Linked DNA regions of Homo sapiens. The protein of the gene in region 4 interacts with the protein of the main gene of each other region in a pairwise test. Each region holds a gene or a part of one and is shown on either strand. Other genes may lie near its edges.

Region 1 (4,463 bases), on a different chromosome or scaffold from region 4:
TTCTTTCACACTTAACCAAAGATGTAGAAGTCATCCCTGATATTTTCTTCTAATCCCTCACTTCTGATCACACCATGTCCTGTCAACTTTATTTCCTATCTCTCAACTCACTCATTCCAGAGTGATTTTTAATTCCTATTCAGTGTTAGCTGAAATGCTCAGGAGCTTCCCCAAAGAGCTTCAAATGAGGTTAGACTTTCATTTTGTCTTCTCAGGGATCCAGGTAATTCCCTTCACAGCACTTTACATTTGTAATTATTTAATACTTCTTAGGGCTCTGCCCTCTGCTAGCTTCATTTCCTGCTCTACCTCCTGTCACCTACATTCCTGTAATACTGAATGTTTCAGACAGTGGATTTACCAGGCTTTTTTATACTTCTTGTAGTTGCTTTAATGCCCAGCTCAAACGTCATCTTTTTTGTGAACTTTTCCCCAACCTTCTGAAATAGTTAAGTCTTCTGCATTTCCATGCCACCATGACACCCTTCTATTGGAACATTTATCATATTACATTCTAATTATTTGCATTTAAGAGTACACTTCTATCTTGAGTTTAAGGTTACAGGAGAGCTCACTTTATTACACTTTGAATTCTAAATACCTTAACAGTTTTATGGTACAAAAAAAGCACCAATGACTTCATTTAGACAAATGAAATGTTTTGTGTATATCTAAGGAAATAAGTTCATAGCAAGCAGAATCTATTCTTTATTCTTCTGTAAGTATTGCCTCTATAACACCTATAGCACTGTACCATGATTCCAGTCTGGAAGAGGATCTGAGGATGTAGATTAGATTATACCTGGTCTGACTGGATCACTGGAATATTTGGGGCGCTAAAGCATAAATCATGGGTAATGAATTAGTTTCTTTAAATAGCTTTAGCGAGCTTGGAAAATTAGAAAGTGCAGCCAAAAGAGTAAGTATTTGCTGAGTGTCAAGTCAGTGATGCAAAAATAATTTATTACAGAAGCTCAGAGCAGGGCACAGTTACAGAACACCATCATGCTGTGGAAGGTTAAGAATGGAGTGAGGGTCCGGGTATGGGATGGAGGACCGGCACTTAATGCTGTTGCTGGGAACGTGGAAGGTAGGTAGAGCTTAAACAAATGAAGGACAGCAGGAAAAGCACTTGTGGCAAAGAGAACGCAAAAGCTTGGTCTGAGAAAAGACAAGCAATGTTCAGAAGATATGAATTTAAGTTTCTGTAAAATGCTATACCGTCAAAGATAGATAAAGGAGAGAAAATGTGTGTCTGTATGCATTGGGGTGGTCCAGGCCTGATGTGAATGGCAACTAACAGCTGTACCTAATGTGTGCCAGCATAGTCAGAAGTTTTTAATTTAGCTCTCACAAAGACTAAGTCTAAAGTAGCTCCTGACAGAACAGATTTTAGGTAATCTGCCCCAAGTCACATGGCAAATGTTTTGTGAGGTCTGCTTACAAATCTTGTCTGCTTTGCAATATACCAACTGTCTTCTATGGTGTAAGAACTAGTAGATGTTCAAGAGTATGAAAGAGAAAGAATGCTTGTAAATAAAGTGGATTCACAAAGCTATTTAAAATCTGGCACTAAGATGGAATGGAAACGAATTTCATGGGACCAGCATAGTCTCCAGAAAGGAATTTATTATCAACAATCCCTCTTTAGTGCTTTTCCATTTTACAAACTACTTTAACATAAAATATCTATTCCCCAAATTTGGAACACAGGCAGAGAATGGGTCATTTTTCGACCTGAAGGTTAAGGGCAGAAATATAAACAGATAATACAACTGTTTGCGTCCAAATGCAAAATGGGGGAACAGGGTTTCTCACATTAGGTACTAATATTAGGGGACACTGAGGGACACAGATCAGGCTCAGACGTTTAGGACAGCAGAACACTATAAAATCCCAAGCGGGTTCCAACCAAACCGGTTTACTTGTTGGGAGGAATGTTTTTTTACAAACGTCCCCACTCCTTTGACAACTGGTTAGAAAACTTTGTCAATACCTGGAAAACGATGACATTTAGTCAGTGGATAAGGGAGAAATATGTGGTCACTGGTATAGGGAGTCAAGGGTTCCTGACTTCCCACTCGGCGTGTGAACTCATTTTTGGTAGATGCAGCCCATCATACTTGCCATAAACTGCTGTTTATGTAAAATGTAAACCACTGGCATAAATGTAAACCACTGGCATAAAATATTCAGTAAATGACACAACTACTCCTTGTGTATTTTATGTCGCTTAAAGTGACAGCAATCCGGCAGGAGAGAGAGGAGAGATGCAAGTGCTTGAGAAGATAAGTCACAGCAAAAGGTAGGATGCAGATATAGATTAAGAGGTCATTGGGGATGGGAGGAAAGGACGGTAGGACACCAGGAATTAAAGAATTAATGAGTTAGGGGAGTGAGATAAATGAGAAGTGGGAGGAAGAAAAGAATGTTAACTTTCTCTGACCACTCACCCAACAGGGTCCCGATAACTCGGGCAGCACCCTCGTTGCGTCTCTCGTAGCTGTCCACAATGGAGGCCAAAATGACTGGGTGCAGCCTGACCACGCGGCCGCCGGGGAAGGGCCCTGGAAGAGCAGGACCAGGCAGAGCGGGCGCTGGGGTCTGCGCTGGAGCTTGCGCTGAGGCCGGGGTCTGGCCAGGAGCCGCAGTTGCAGCCGCTGCTGCCGCAGGGTCTGAGGATGAGGCTGGAGCCGCAGCGGGAACCGGAGCCGCAGCCGGTGCTGGCGTTGGCGCTGGAACTGAGGCTGGGGCCGCCGCCGGGACTGGGGTTGGCGTGGCCGGAGGAGCACTTACTGGTACCGCCGGTGTGGCCATCTTGTCGAGAAAGAAGGAGGCGGAAGCGGAAATGACAGCATTCATGAATATCAGGAGCTTGATAGGCTGAATATACACCACGTGAGCTAGAGCTTTTTGCTGATTGGTTACTGGTGATACTTCTCGGAGCACTGAAATAGTCCCGCCGTTGGTAATTTCTTCTGGAATTTGTGCGCTCTGCTTTTGGCCCGAGGAGCACTCAGGAAACCCTGGGCTAAGTAGTTCCGGGTAAAACTTGGGACGGCGTTCGAAGAGAAACACTTTGTGCAGCTGCCGCCAGGTGGAACCAGAAAGCAGCGCGGAGGTCGAAATTCGTGTTTTAGACTTAAATGAGATAATGGATGTCAAAGTGCCTTTAAAAAGGATTTTAAGGCCAGGCGCGGTGGCTCACGCCTGTAATCTCAGCACTTCGGGAGACCGAGGCGGAAGGATCGTTTGAGCCCAGAAGCTCGAGGCTGCAATGGGCGAGAAGGAGAACTTAGCTGGATTTCTCCTGCTGCTTTGAGAAGAGACTGGAGGGTGAGGGGAGGTGAGGAGAGGGAGGCGAGAGAGGGAAAAGCAGGGAGACCTGCTGGGAGGCCACTAGGTAATCTAAGTGAGAGATGATGGTGGCTGGGACCAGGCTGGTAGCAGTAGAAGTTCTGAGAAGTGGGAAGATTATGGATATATTTTGAAGGTAGTTTCAATAGGGTTTCCTGAGAAATTGTATATGAGGTGTGAAAGAGAGGAGTCAAGGAGGACTGCAATTTTTTTTTTTTTTTTTTGTACTGAGCGATTAGTAGGATGAAGTCACCATCAATTGAGATAGCAAAAGCTGTAGGTAGAGCAGGTTTTGGGGAAAAGATCCTGATTTCATTTCTGAATGTGTCACCTTTGAGATGTCCATTACACATTCAAGTGGAGTTGTAATAAGGTGTATAAACTAGTCTGTACTTTAGGAGAGGATTATATGAGGTATTGCCTTGTAAAGCTCTTAGCACATGCCTGATATACAGTAGTTATTAAGTCATAGCTATTATCACTATGTGATGGAGGGAGCTCTGACCATAACCCACTGTGTAACTTGGGGCAATCTACAAGTTTTTTCTGAGCCTCAATTTCCTTCTTGGTATAATGGGGTGATAACATCTGCTTGTAAAGACAAAACAAAACACCAAAAAAACTGTCAACTCCCTTAATTAGGTCAAGTCCTAGTGTCCAGCTGGCAAGTGGATAGGTGAGGTTGAACTTCTTATCCCTGATTCTGTGCCCAAGAGTTGATTTCTCCTTGGAGAAATCTTCCATTATTAGAATTCACATGACGCTGCTCCCCTGTAAATGCTCTGTGTAGACATGCATTCTTTCTTTCACCAAAACAAAGGTGAACAGCCAAACAGAAGAAGATTGAAAAGTAACTCTTGGATTTGATGACCTGGAGTCTTTAGCAACCCTAGTAGAGCAACGTCAGTGGGACTGAGGGTGGGGTGGGCACAGAAACTAGAAATCTGGTGTGAGAGAATGGCCAGTCTGAACTGAAAGCAGCAAGTGCCAGCTTTTCTTTCAGGAAGTTTTCTGGGAAGGAAAGGAGACATTTAAGGAAATAGCCAGGGAAACAGCAGGATTGAGAGGCAGCCAATTTAGGATGGCAGTGTTTCAAGTATATTTTA
Region 2 (3,669 bases), on a different chromosome or scaffold from region 4:
GAAATTCATATTAAATTTTGTTAAAGGCCTTTTCAGCATGTATAGAAATAATCATATGATTATTTACCCTTAGATCTATTATGTTGAGTTATATTAATAGACTTGCTAATACTGAATGATCCATTGGGATTGTATACCCATTGCTGGCGTAAAATCAAGTTGATCATGGTGTATCTCTTTCCTTATATTGCTAGGCTTAGTTTGCTAACAATTGTTTCAGGTTATTTTTCTTATATGCCCATGAATGAGAGTGAGTTATAAGTTTCTTTTTTCTCTCTGCCCTTGCTGGATTTGGGTACCAATGTTTTACAGTCTCATAAAATGAATTTGGGAGTGTTCCTATTTTTCTGTTTTCTGGAATAGTTTGTAATAATAATGGATTTTTTTTCCTTTTAATGTTTGGTAGAACTTGCCAATGAAGCCATCTGGGCCTGGAATATTATTTTTTGGTAGATTTCTGACTACTGGTTCAATTTCTTTAGCACTTATAGAATTAGTCATATTTTATTTTTCTTAAATCCACTTTGGAAAGTTTTTTTTTCTAGGAATGTGTCCATTTCGAGTAAATTTGCAAGTGGTTTGGCATAAAATTTGTGTATGGTTTTCTGTTATCCCTTCAATACCTGTAGCTTCTGTAGTCATGTCCTTTTTGTTTCTGGTACTGATTATTTATGATTTATCTTACCAGAGGTTTGTCTACTTTATTATTTTTTTCAAACCAATTTTTTATTTTTATTTTTTATTTTTTGAGAAAGGTCTAACTCTGCTGTCCAGGTTGGAGTGCAGTGGCCTGATCACAGCTCACTGCTGCCTCGACCTCTGGGCCTCAAGAGTTGCTCTCTCTCCAGGCTCCCAAGTAGCTGGGACCACAGGTGCATACTACCACACCTGTTAATTAAAAAAAAAAAATTTGTAGGGAGGGAGTCTCACTATCTTTCCCAGGCTGGTCTTGAACTCCTAGGCTCAAGCTATCATCCAACAGCCTCTCAAAGTGTTGGGATTACAGGCATGAGCCACCATATCTGGCTTTTATTGATCTTCTATGTCACCGTTCTCTATTGAGGCATAGCAAACTACCCCCAAATCTCAGTGACTTACAGTAGCAACCACTTCATTTACTCACAGTTCTGTGAACCTGCAGCTTGGGAAGACTTCAGCAGAAACATCTCATCCCTGTTCCACATAGTATCATCTGGGATTGACTTGGTGGGTCCCAAATGAGATGTCTGGGGACTTGGTACTGGGACCTGGGTGTCTTCGTGTTCCCCTCCTTGGCCTTTGTTTCTGTATGCGCAGTCTGGACTTCTTTACATGGGGACCCAAGGTCCCAAAAGAGCACAAATAGAAGCCACAAAGCCTTCTAATGTCCGGTCCCCAAAGTCATTTCTGCTGCTTCTATGAGTCAATGCAAGTTTCTGTAGTAGCCTGGATTCAAGGTGAAGGAAATAGACGTTGCCTCTTGATGGGAAGAATGGCAAAAGTCACACTGCAAAAGGGCATACAGGATGAGACGAAATGCTGTGGCCATCTTTGGAAAAATATACCATCGTCTATATTGTATGTTTGTTTTCCAGTTCATTCATTTATGTAAATTTATCTTGCTTGGCCTTTTTAGCACATCCTGAATCTGTGGCTTGATTACTTCCATCAGTTTTGAAAAATTCTCAACCAGTATCTCTTGAAATGTTGCCTCTACTTGATTATTTCTGCCTTTTCCTTCTGGAATGCCAGCACAACGTTTGGCCTGCTCACTCCATGTACCATGTCTCTTCACCTCTCTACCAACTTTACCATCTTCTTGTCTTTCTACACTGCATTCTAAGTAATTTATTATGATACATCTTCTAGCTTATTCAGTCTCCTTCAGTTGCGTCTAATTTTCTGTTAAACCTGATCGTTGAAGATTTTGAAAATTGGTGATTTTATTTTTCAAATTTAACTTACATTTGGTTTCTTACCAAATTGGTAATTAAATAACTTTGGATTCCCATAAAAACTTCAAGTTTGTCTTATTTTAAAAAACATAGTCATTGTAAGGGCCAGGCGCAGTGGCTCACGTCTGTTATCCCAGCACTTTGGGAGGCTGAGGCAGGCAGATCACTTGAGGTCAGGAGTTCGAGACCAGCCTGGCCAACATGGTGAAACCCCATCTCTACTGAAAATACAAAAATTAGCTGGGTATGGTGGTGTGTGCCTGTAGTCCCGATACTCAGGAGGTTGAGGCAGGAGAATTACTTGAACCTGGGAGGTGGAGGTTGCAGTGAGCCGAGATTGGGCCACTACATTCCAGCCTGGGCAACAGAGCGAGACTCAGTCTCAAAAAAACAAAACAACAACAACAACAACAAAAATTCATTTTGAAATTTTACAATTTTGATGATTTTAGTATCCAAAGTCTTTGTGATCTGTTTCTTTTGTTCTCCTGCTGATTCTTGCTTATATGTACCTAATTTCTTTATGTACTATACCTGGTTATCTTTTATTGCATGGTGCTCAGACTCCTTGAAAATGTACTTATGAGATTCTTTGAGGCCTAGGATGAAGGTGAATGTCTTCAGAGAAGATATAAGTGTTCATTCTATTGGGCACTGGGGATGTTATCACATTTGAGGATCACTTCAAACTAAATTCATGGTGTGAGGCTCCCTAGAAAAACCAGGCTCTATGATAAGCACAGTTCATGTATAACAGCCTTCCTTTAAGATGGTCTGTGCTATTTTTCCCATTTTACAGATGAGAAAACTGAGAAGCTAGGTAACTTATCCAAAATCATCCAGCTAATTAGTACAGGAAGCTGAGGTCAGTCCTGAGCTTGGATCCAGGGCCAGCACCTTTCGCTACCTTACAGTATAATAGAGCTCGAGAGAAGAACCAAAATTAGACTTTTATTTAAACTTTTAAATGGACTCAACAAGCAATACATATGAAAACAGATTCCTGCTTTGAATGTTTTGGCTTATAAAACTGAAATATCATTAACTCAACTGCAGTCGGCAAAAGCAAGTTGGCAAGAAATCATTGTATCTAATAAATTACCATTTCTGCTAGAATTTTATTTTCCTCGAATGGGTCAGAAGTTCCCAGAAGATTGTCATGCCTGTGGGAAAAACTTGTTGCCTTGGTAACGTACCCATGACAGGCCTGTCAATGCAAAACCAACGGTGGGAGCTGGGTGAACTCATTGAGTGAGAAAAGGATACCTTTTCATTACTAAAACAAGCTAGGTAACATTTGTTTTGCAAGAGCCCAGGGTTCTTCCTGAAGGTTGGCTTTCCTTCCCTTCCTGCAGGAAGTTTTCCCAAGCCTTCTAGAAATACAGTCTTTCTAAATAAGAGTAGAAAGGGATATTTGAGAACTTTTGGTGGCCTGAGTCCTTCAAATTATTGATGCAAGATCAGGGAGAACCTGCTTGGGTCACACACCTAGTTGGTGGCATAGCCATCCCCGAATCTCTGGTGTTAGACTCTACATCCCAATGCCTCCATCCCCATCCCCAACCCTCACTTCACCTCACACACTTGTCTCCAAATGTCTGCTTTGGACACTGAGCACAGGTATGGGGTTTTCTCTAGAGGCTCAGAAGTTCTACTTTCCTGGGATGTCATCTGTGCCTTGTAGATTTCTAGGACTTTATTGTCAATCATCATTTCCATCAAGTTGCATTTTTGT
Region 3 (3,669 bases), about 83 Mb from region 4:
TGCCTCCTCCCCAACTAAGGCCACTGGCCCAGGGAGCTGCACCGCCACTGCCCCTCGAGGCTGGCGCCAAGCCTGGTGGTGCAGCTGGTCTTCTCCACTCTCGTTGCAGTGGTGAGTCCTGGTGTCTCCGCCCACTGCTCCCATGTGCCACTGCTGCAGAGCTGGGACACCACCGGAGAAGGGACAGATTCGCCACGAGGAGTGGTGGACCCACTGCACACTCAGCCACCGAGGCCCATGCTCCACAGGGAGACAAGAGCATCCCCTGGCTCCGTGGCTAGCCAGCCCCAGGACCCCATTGCGGCAGACGGGGGACTTCAGGATGCCTCTGGGCCAGTGGCTCCCAGATGTAGCACCAGATTGACCCGGAAGCATGATTAAAAAAACAAGCAAACTCTTTCCAGAACAGGCAAATTCACAGAGACAAGAAGGAGCTTTGTGGTTGCCAGAGGCTGAGGGAAAAACAGGTAGAGACTCTGGTAATGAGTCTAGGGGGTTTTCGGGGAGGGTCTAAAGGAAATGTTCGGCCGGGCGCGGTGGCTCACACCCGTAATCCCAGCACATTGGGAGGCCAAGGCAGGTGGATCATCTGAGGTCAGGAGCTCCAGACCAGCCTGGCCAACATGGTGAAACCCCATCTGTACTAAAAATACAAAAAAAATTAGCCAGGCATGGTGGTGGGTGCCTGTAATCCCAGCTACTCAGGAGGCTGACGCAGGAAAATCGCTTGAACCCGGGAGCCGGAGGTTGCAGTGAGCCGAGATCGCACCATTGCACTCCAGCCTGGGCAACAAGAGCAAAACTCTGTCTCAAAAAAACAAAAACAAAACAAAACAAATACACATACATACACACACACACACACACACACACACACACACACACACACACACACACATATAAAAATTATAAATAAATAAATAAAAATAAAACAGGCCAGGCATGGTGGCTTATGCCTGTAATCCCAGTGCTTTGGGAGACTTAGGCAAGAGGATCACTTGAGCCCAGGAGTTCAAGACCAGCCTAGGCAGCACAGCGAGACTGTGTCCCATTAAAAAAAAAACAAAAAAAAAACAACTAGCCGGGTGTGGTGGTGCATGCCTGTAGTCCCAACTAACTGAGGAGGCTGAGGCAGGAGGATCCCTTGAGCCTGGGAGGTCAAGGCTGCAGTGAGCTGTAATCACACTACTGCACTCCAGCGTGAGCACAGAGCCAGACTTTGGCTCAAAACAAACAAACAAACAAACAAACAAACAAAAACCCCAAAAAAACCAGCAAGCAAACAAAGGAGACTCCCATTCCAGCCCAGCGGTGTGGGAGGAAGCTGTGTTTTCCCCCAGAGTCCCAAGAGATTCCTGTGCCCAGCAGAGTAGGAGTCACCACCCTGTCTCACTGGTGGACCGCAGAATCTTCCGGGCACAGCCGAGTACTTAAATGGCCTCTGGAGAGAAGAAAAGACTTCCCAGGAGGCCAGGGGAAGTGACTCCAGGGTTGGGGCAAAGGGAGAAAACTCCAGGGAAGAGCTCCTCTGACATCCAAAACCTTGGCCCCCAGGAGAGGTGTCCCCTTAACAAGGAAGTGTGACACACAGGAGGTCGGGCCAGACCCCAGGATGCTGCAGACCAGGAGCATCCCACTCACCTGGGACCAGGCCGAAAGGAAGGGCGAGGCTGACGCCATCTCCTGATGCCGGGGAGCTGGAGGGCCTGGGAAGGAGCAGAGTCACCACCAGTCACACAGCTCACCCAGTACTGCCCCTGCCGTCCCCTGCACACCAAGGCCCCAACAGCCCGGCGGCTGCCCACCCAAGATCCACTCCTTGCTGGAGAGCCTGTGCACCCTGCATCCAGGCAGGCCTCTGCCCTGGCCACAGTCCACACCCCAGTCACCTTCACCTCCCTCCCCTGCACCACTTCTCATTCCTCCAAAGGGGTGCTACTCACCTCTCTCTGGCCACAACAGCGGGCCCCTCTGTGGCCTGTGGCTCAGCTGGGCTGGGGGCTGCTGGCTGGAGAATCGAGCCTCTTCCTCCAGGGACAGATCCTCTGGCTGAGCCTCTGCCTGGTGTTTTAAGAACTGTCCCCCTATCCCGAGGGGCACCTCGTCATCAGAAAGCAGCTCTGAGCCCTGCACACAGACAGTGATCTCCCCACCAGCTCCCAGAAGGCCAGAAGGAAAAATCCCCGCAGGGCCCCACACCCCTCATCTCAGGCACCCCAGCCGGCTGCCCACCCCCGGGCTGTCTGCAGCCTCCCTCCCTCTGCCCAGCCGTGTGGCAGTGTTCCCTGCAGCCAGCTCCCAGCCTGCTCTACTCCATGGTCTCTCCCTGTCACCACAATCGTTTCCCCATCACATTCTTACCCTCTATTCCTTGGTCCTCCTGATAGACCCTGGGATAGACCCTGGGCCAGAAGAGCCCTGAGTCAGCGCTGGACTAATTTCAGAAGTTCACAGAACTGCATTTGCTAGATTTTTTGAAATTATCTGGCCAGCTGCAATGGCTCACACCTGTAATTCCAGCACTTTGGGAGGCCGAGGTGGGTGGATCACCTGAGGCCAGGAGTTCGAGACCAGCCTAACCAACATGGTGAAACCCCATCTCTACTAAAAATACAAAAATTAGCCAGGCATGGTGGCAGCACGCTTGTAATCCCAGGTACTTGGGAGGCTGAGGCAGGAGAATCGCTTGAACTCGGGAAGTACAGGTTGCAGTGAGCCGAGATCGTGCCACTGCACTCCAGCCTGGGCAAAAGAGCGAGACTCCATCTCAGGGAAGAAAAAAAAAAAAAGAAAAAAAAAAGAAATTATCAACAGGTGCTCTGAGATGATCTATTTCCTAATTCCAGGAAAGGTGAGTTGAATGAAATTGGGTCTTAGAATTGAGCTCTGCAATAGCACTTGGACAAGAGACATCCCTAGGCAACTACAAACCCAGCGTCAGGGACCCATCTCAGGCTTCCTCTTATTCAACATTCCACACCTCTAAGGGAGCGTAGTCCCCTTGGGGAGCACAGCCTGCCCCTCTCAGCTCAGTGATGGCCATGAGGCATGTGTGCAGAGGTGTCGGTGCAGTGACAGAAGGAAGCCATGCCGGGAACCCCAAACACTGAAGCTGTGGTGGCCAGGAAAGAGGCTGGCCGGCTGGGAAGAAACCCCGATTTCTTGGCCACCCCGATGGCAGGATTTTCTGACTGCGGTCAGCTCACGCCGTGGTCAAGCATTAGGGGATGTGCCTCCTCTGTTGGCTGCAAAAGGCCAGCAGTGTGCAGCCAGCAGCACTGCCACAGGAAGAAAGGCAGCTGGTCAGCACTGCCCATGTGCCCCATCCACGCAAGGCCCTGAAAAATGAACTGAAACAGCAGGTGGCAGGACTTCTTTCTAATCTCAAGGAGTTCCACAACTGAAACTGAAGCAGCAGGAATGAGTAAGAGGCTTCCTCTACTCCTTCAAATGGGGCTGGAAGGAGGTGGAGAGGCACTGTCTATAGAGATTTCGGTGTGTCAGAAGGGTCCTGTCTGTGCCATCCAGTACAGTAGCCACTGGCCATGTGTGACGACTGAGCCCTTGAGAGGTGGTCAGTGTGACTGAGGAACTAATTTAACATTCTACACAGTGGCCGGGCACAGTGGCTCATGCCTGTAATCCCAGCACTTTGGGAGGCCAAGGCAG
Region 4 (3,669 bases):
GACACAGCAAGGGCCTCCACTCAGCCAGAGAGAAAGCAAGCTGCCCTGAGCCCAGCTTTCCGTGGCATCGTGGCCTCAGGCAGGTGTATTGTGAGTCTTGGGCCCCATGACAACTTGGTTGGGCCGGGCCAGCCTGCAGGGGGCAGAGAACAGCCAAGGGCCCAGCCCTGCCCACTGATGCCACCCCTGGTGCAAAGTTCCCCCACCCCAGCGAGGAGGAAGGGCCGGATGCTAGTCAGCCTGTAGTGGGGTAGCAGGACAGAGTGGGGTGGTCAGTGGCACCTCTTCTGCCACAGTCCAGCCCGTGCTCTGGGCCGGGAAGCAGGTACGGACGCTGTGGGCGAGGGCGTGGCTGCCCGCAGGAGGGAAGCTTCTGTCTCCCCAGCCATCCTCCAACCCTGGACCCCACCATCAGGTCATATCCATCATTTCACCAAGAGGGAAACAGCCAGGGCCAGAGTTCCTTCACCAGTAGAGCGGTAGGGAGAACCTGTGCTTCCATCCTAAGGGACTTTACCCTGAATTGCCAGGGCCCTACACGGGCCAGAATCCCAGGCCCATCTGTGGCCAGTGGGACCCTATGTGGGCTAGAATCCCAGGCCCATCTGTGGCCAGTGGGACCCAGGGCCTCTGGCGTGTGAGCTCTGCAGCATGTTGGGAATGGTGGAGGGGGATGGCCAGAAGACAGCACCCCAGACCCTGCTGGTGGCCCAGGGGAGACACTGCAGAGAGCTGTACCCCTGTGAGGGGGTGGCACTGAAGGCACTCAGCCCAGCCTGGCACCCGACTGCCCTGACACCTGTCCCCTGACATGGATGCCGGCTGGCACGGGCCCCTCCTGCTTCCCACCAACAGGGCCTGGAACAGTGCTTAGGATTGACCGCGCCTCTACACACCATCTCCCCTCACAGACCTGGCAGAAAACACAGCTCCAAAGCTGTGGGGAGGGAGACGGGGAGGGAGACAGGGAGGGAAACCTTGTTTGCACCAGCACCAGGTACCCCAGGGTGGCCACTTCCAAGGAGCTCAGCTGGCATCCTCCAGGGTGGGTGGGACATGATGCTGCAGCTGACGGGACCTCCAGATTAGCCCCAGCTGGAGACCGGGCAGGACCAGGGCAGCATGTAGCACCCTGCGTGTCGCTAACTCATCCCAGAGGCCAGCTTGGCACTTGTCCCCAGCTTGTGCATTGACCCCCAGGGAGGTTCATTTAAAAGCACCCAAAAGTGTCAGTGCATTAAGCAGGCTAAAAATAGAACCCGTCCCTACACCTCCCACCCTGCCCACTGCTTGGCTGTTCCTAAAATAACCGCGCGCGCACAGCCACGCACACATCTCCGGCTGCGATGGGGAAAATCAAGTTGTAAGTGTGAGCTGGTATTTTGGTCCCAGCAGGAGCATAGGGGCTGTTCTCTGTGGGCTTTGGGGAACGGGGAGGCATCTTAGGAACCCAACAGGACAGACAGACGTCCGCAGTGGTTCCAAGGAGAGGCAGAAACAGGCATTGCCGCCCGGCAGGACGTGCCCCTTCAAAGGGGTGTCACGCGGTGACCCCTCTGGGGGTGGGGCTGGCAGGAGGAGAAAACCACAGCTCCCCTAGGTCAGGGGCAGGGACAGACACCGACCCCTGCCGCAGCGTCGACAATAAACCTACCAATGGTCCCCCCTGCCCGGCCCACACGCCCTGAGCGCCCCCTGCGGACACCCCCCTGCGTCCTCACACCCGAGGGGCAGACTGGCTTGCAGCACTTCTGTTCAGCACCACGCACTGCCTGGCAGCCACGAGCGAGCAGAGCCCTGCTGGGGTGAGGGCCTGGCCGTGCGCAGATCCTATGTAGCCACCGTCCCACAGCCCTTCATTCCCAAAGCCCTTCATTCCTGCAGCACTGGTCAAGGGAGCAGGGTGGGATTTGCAGAGTGAAGGTCCCTTCAAGGGGAGGCCAGCCCTGTGTGAGGCACCAGGACCCCCAGCCTCGCACACCGAGTCTAGCCTGGGACCCCCAGCCTCGCGCCGAGTCTAGCCCAGGGGGACGCTGTTCTTCCCTCCAAGCTGCCTGCCCTGGAGGAACGAATTTGGGGGGGGGGTGCTGGGTGAGGCTGACGGTGAGTTGCACACAGCGGGCCTCACGTGGGAGCCGGCTCCAACCCCAACACCCCCCATGGGTGAGAGAAACCTGGACTGGCAGCTCCCCCCAACCCCAGACCTGACTCCCAGCCCCAGGGCCAGCCTTGCCCCCAGCTGTTTCGCCTCTGGGTTCCTATCCAGGACACAGGACACTCAAGCGGTCATCTCACGGCCCAAGGCTACTGACCAGGGGCACAGACTCTTGGAGCAGCTGGGGTTGAGCACGTTGCGGGGAGCGCAGGGATCCCATGCTGCCTGGAAACCAGGAGTTTCGTGTGCTTTCTGGACAACCTGGGGGCAGCCTCTCACGGAAAGAGGTATGACACCTGCCCCACCTGGCTTCCTAGGGGAGGGTCCCAGCGACCTGAGGGCCACCACTCCCGGCTGTACCCCCACCCTACTCCACCCCTGGAGAGGAACAGGGGAGCAGTGACCTTGCTGGAAACCCTCAGGAAACACCAGGTCAGCAGAGAGGTGGATGTTGCCTCCACTGGGACCAGCCTGGTGGCCGCCCACTCACCGTACTGGACTTGAGCTCATCCCCATTCTCCTCGTCGGACTCTAGAGCGACAGGCAAGGATTTCTGGGGCGGGGAGAAGGTCAAGTCCCAACGCAGCAACCGGGGCTCGGCCCCGCCCAGCCGCAGGCTCGCCAGTTTCTGCACGGCGGGCTCCGCGGAGGAGGCCGGCCTGAAGTTCTCCTTGTTCTGGGCCTTGGACCGCAGTCTCTGCACCCCGAAGCCCCGGTCCTCGGGGCGGTGGTCGTCCCCCAAGCCCCGGCAGGCGCCGCCCTTGCTGTAGCGTCTTTTCTGGGGATGCGTCTCCATCCTCAGCAAGGGTTTCATCTCCATCCGGTAGTTGCTCAGCTTCTCCTCCTGCAGCTCCAGCAGCCTGGAGCCTCCGGGGCTGTGGTTGCTGGCCCGGTGGTGGGAAGTCCACGTGAACACGGGGGGTGACTCCGTCCGCCGCTCCCGCGGCTTGGGGTTCCCGGGCTGCTTGCGGCCCGAACCTCGGGTGCGGAAGTCATCCACGAGCAGGCCGCCGCGCAGGGCACCGCTGCGGACACCCCTGGAGCCCCCGGCCTGCTCCTCGCCCCAGCTGCTGCGGGCGCAGTCCCCGGCCCGGCCCTCCAGGAGCATCTGGATGTCCCCGCCCCGCTCCTCGTCCACCGACACCTGCCTCGAGAAGTGGGCGACCTTGTTCCTGGCGGCGGGCGCGGGCGGCGGGGTGGCCGCGGGGCTGGTGGGGAAGCTCTGCAGGGGGCTGTCGTCGGGGGTCAGGTCGGAGGGAGTGGTGCCCTTGCGGTACAGCTCGGGGCTCTCCTGCTGCAGGGGTGTCCCGGTGGACAGCACCTCGATGTCGTCACAGGAGGTCTGACGCTTCGGCCTCTGGTACTCCAGCCCTGTATGGGGACACAAGACGACGCCAGACGGCGTTACCCAGCACATTCCACAGCGAGGCCGCGGTCCCCGGGCCAGGGCGCCAGAGGGAACCTCAGGGCAGCAGAGGCGCTTCCCACTCACCGAAAGGCTGCAGGCAAGGGAG

The links. The genes of interacting proteins can lie anywhere in the genome.
Region 1: the proteins of JPH3 (region 4) and EIF3F interact in binary tests that used the Homo sapiens proteins (3 or more experiments, as listed by UniProt).
Region 2: the proteins of JPH3 (region 4) and PLB1 interact in binary tests that used the Homo sapiens proteins (3 or more experiments, as listed by UniProt).
Region 3: the proteins of JPH3 (region 4) and ZNF500 interact in binary tests that used the Homo sapiens proteins (3 or more experiments, as listed by UniProt).

Annotation. Positions count from the first base shown.
Region 1 is NC_000011.10:7,985,707-7,990,169, reverse strand, and holds the start of EIF3F (eukaryotic translation initiation factor 3 subunit F), read right to left. Parts: upstream 2,834-4,463; 5' UTR 2,818-2,833; coding exon 2,454-2,817; intron 1-2,453. UniProt on the Homo sapiens protein: Component of the eukaryotic translation initiation factor 3 (eIF-3) complex, which is required for several steps in the initiation of protein synthesis.
Region 2 is NC_000002.12:28,502,424-28,506,092, forward strand, and holds part of PLB1 (phospholipase B1, membrane-associated isoform 1 precursor), read left to right. Parts: intron 1-3,669. UniProt on the Homo sapiens protein: Calcium-independent membrane-associated phospholipase that catalyzes complete diacylation of phospholipids by hydrolyzing both sn-1 and sn-2 fatty acyl chains attached to the glycerol backbone (phospholipase B activity).
Region 3 is NC_000016.10:4,760,630-4,764,298, forward strand, and holds part of ZNF500 (zinc finger protein 500), read right to left. Parts: intron 3,661-3,669; exon of another isoform or gene 3,044-3,660; coding exon of another isoform or gene 2,981-3,043; intron 2,128-2,980; coding exon 1,944-2,127; intron 1,707-1,943; coding exon 1,642-1,706; intron 1-1,641.
Region 4 is NC_000016.10:87,689,503-87,693,171, reverse strand, and holds part of JPH3 (junctophilin-3), read right to left. Parts: intron 3,527-3,669; coding exon 2,646-3,526; intron 1-2,645. UniProt on the Homo sapiens protein: Junctophilins contribute to the formation of junctional membrane complexes (JMCs) which link the plasma membrane with the endoplasmic or sarcoplasmic reticulum in excitable cells.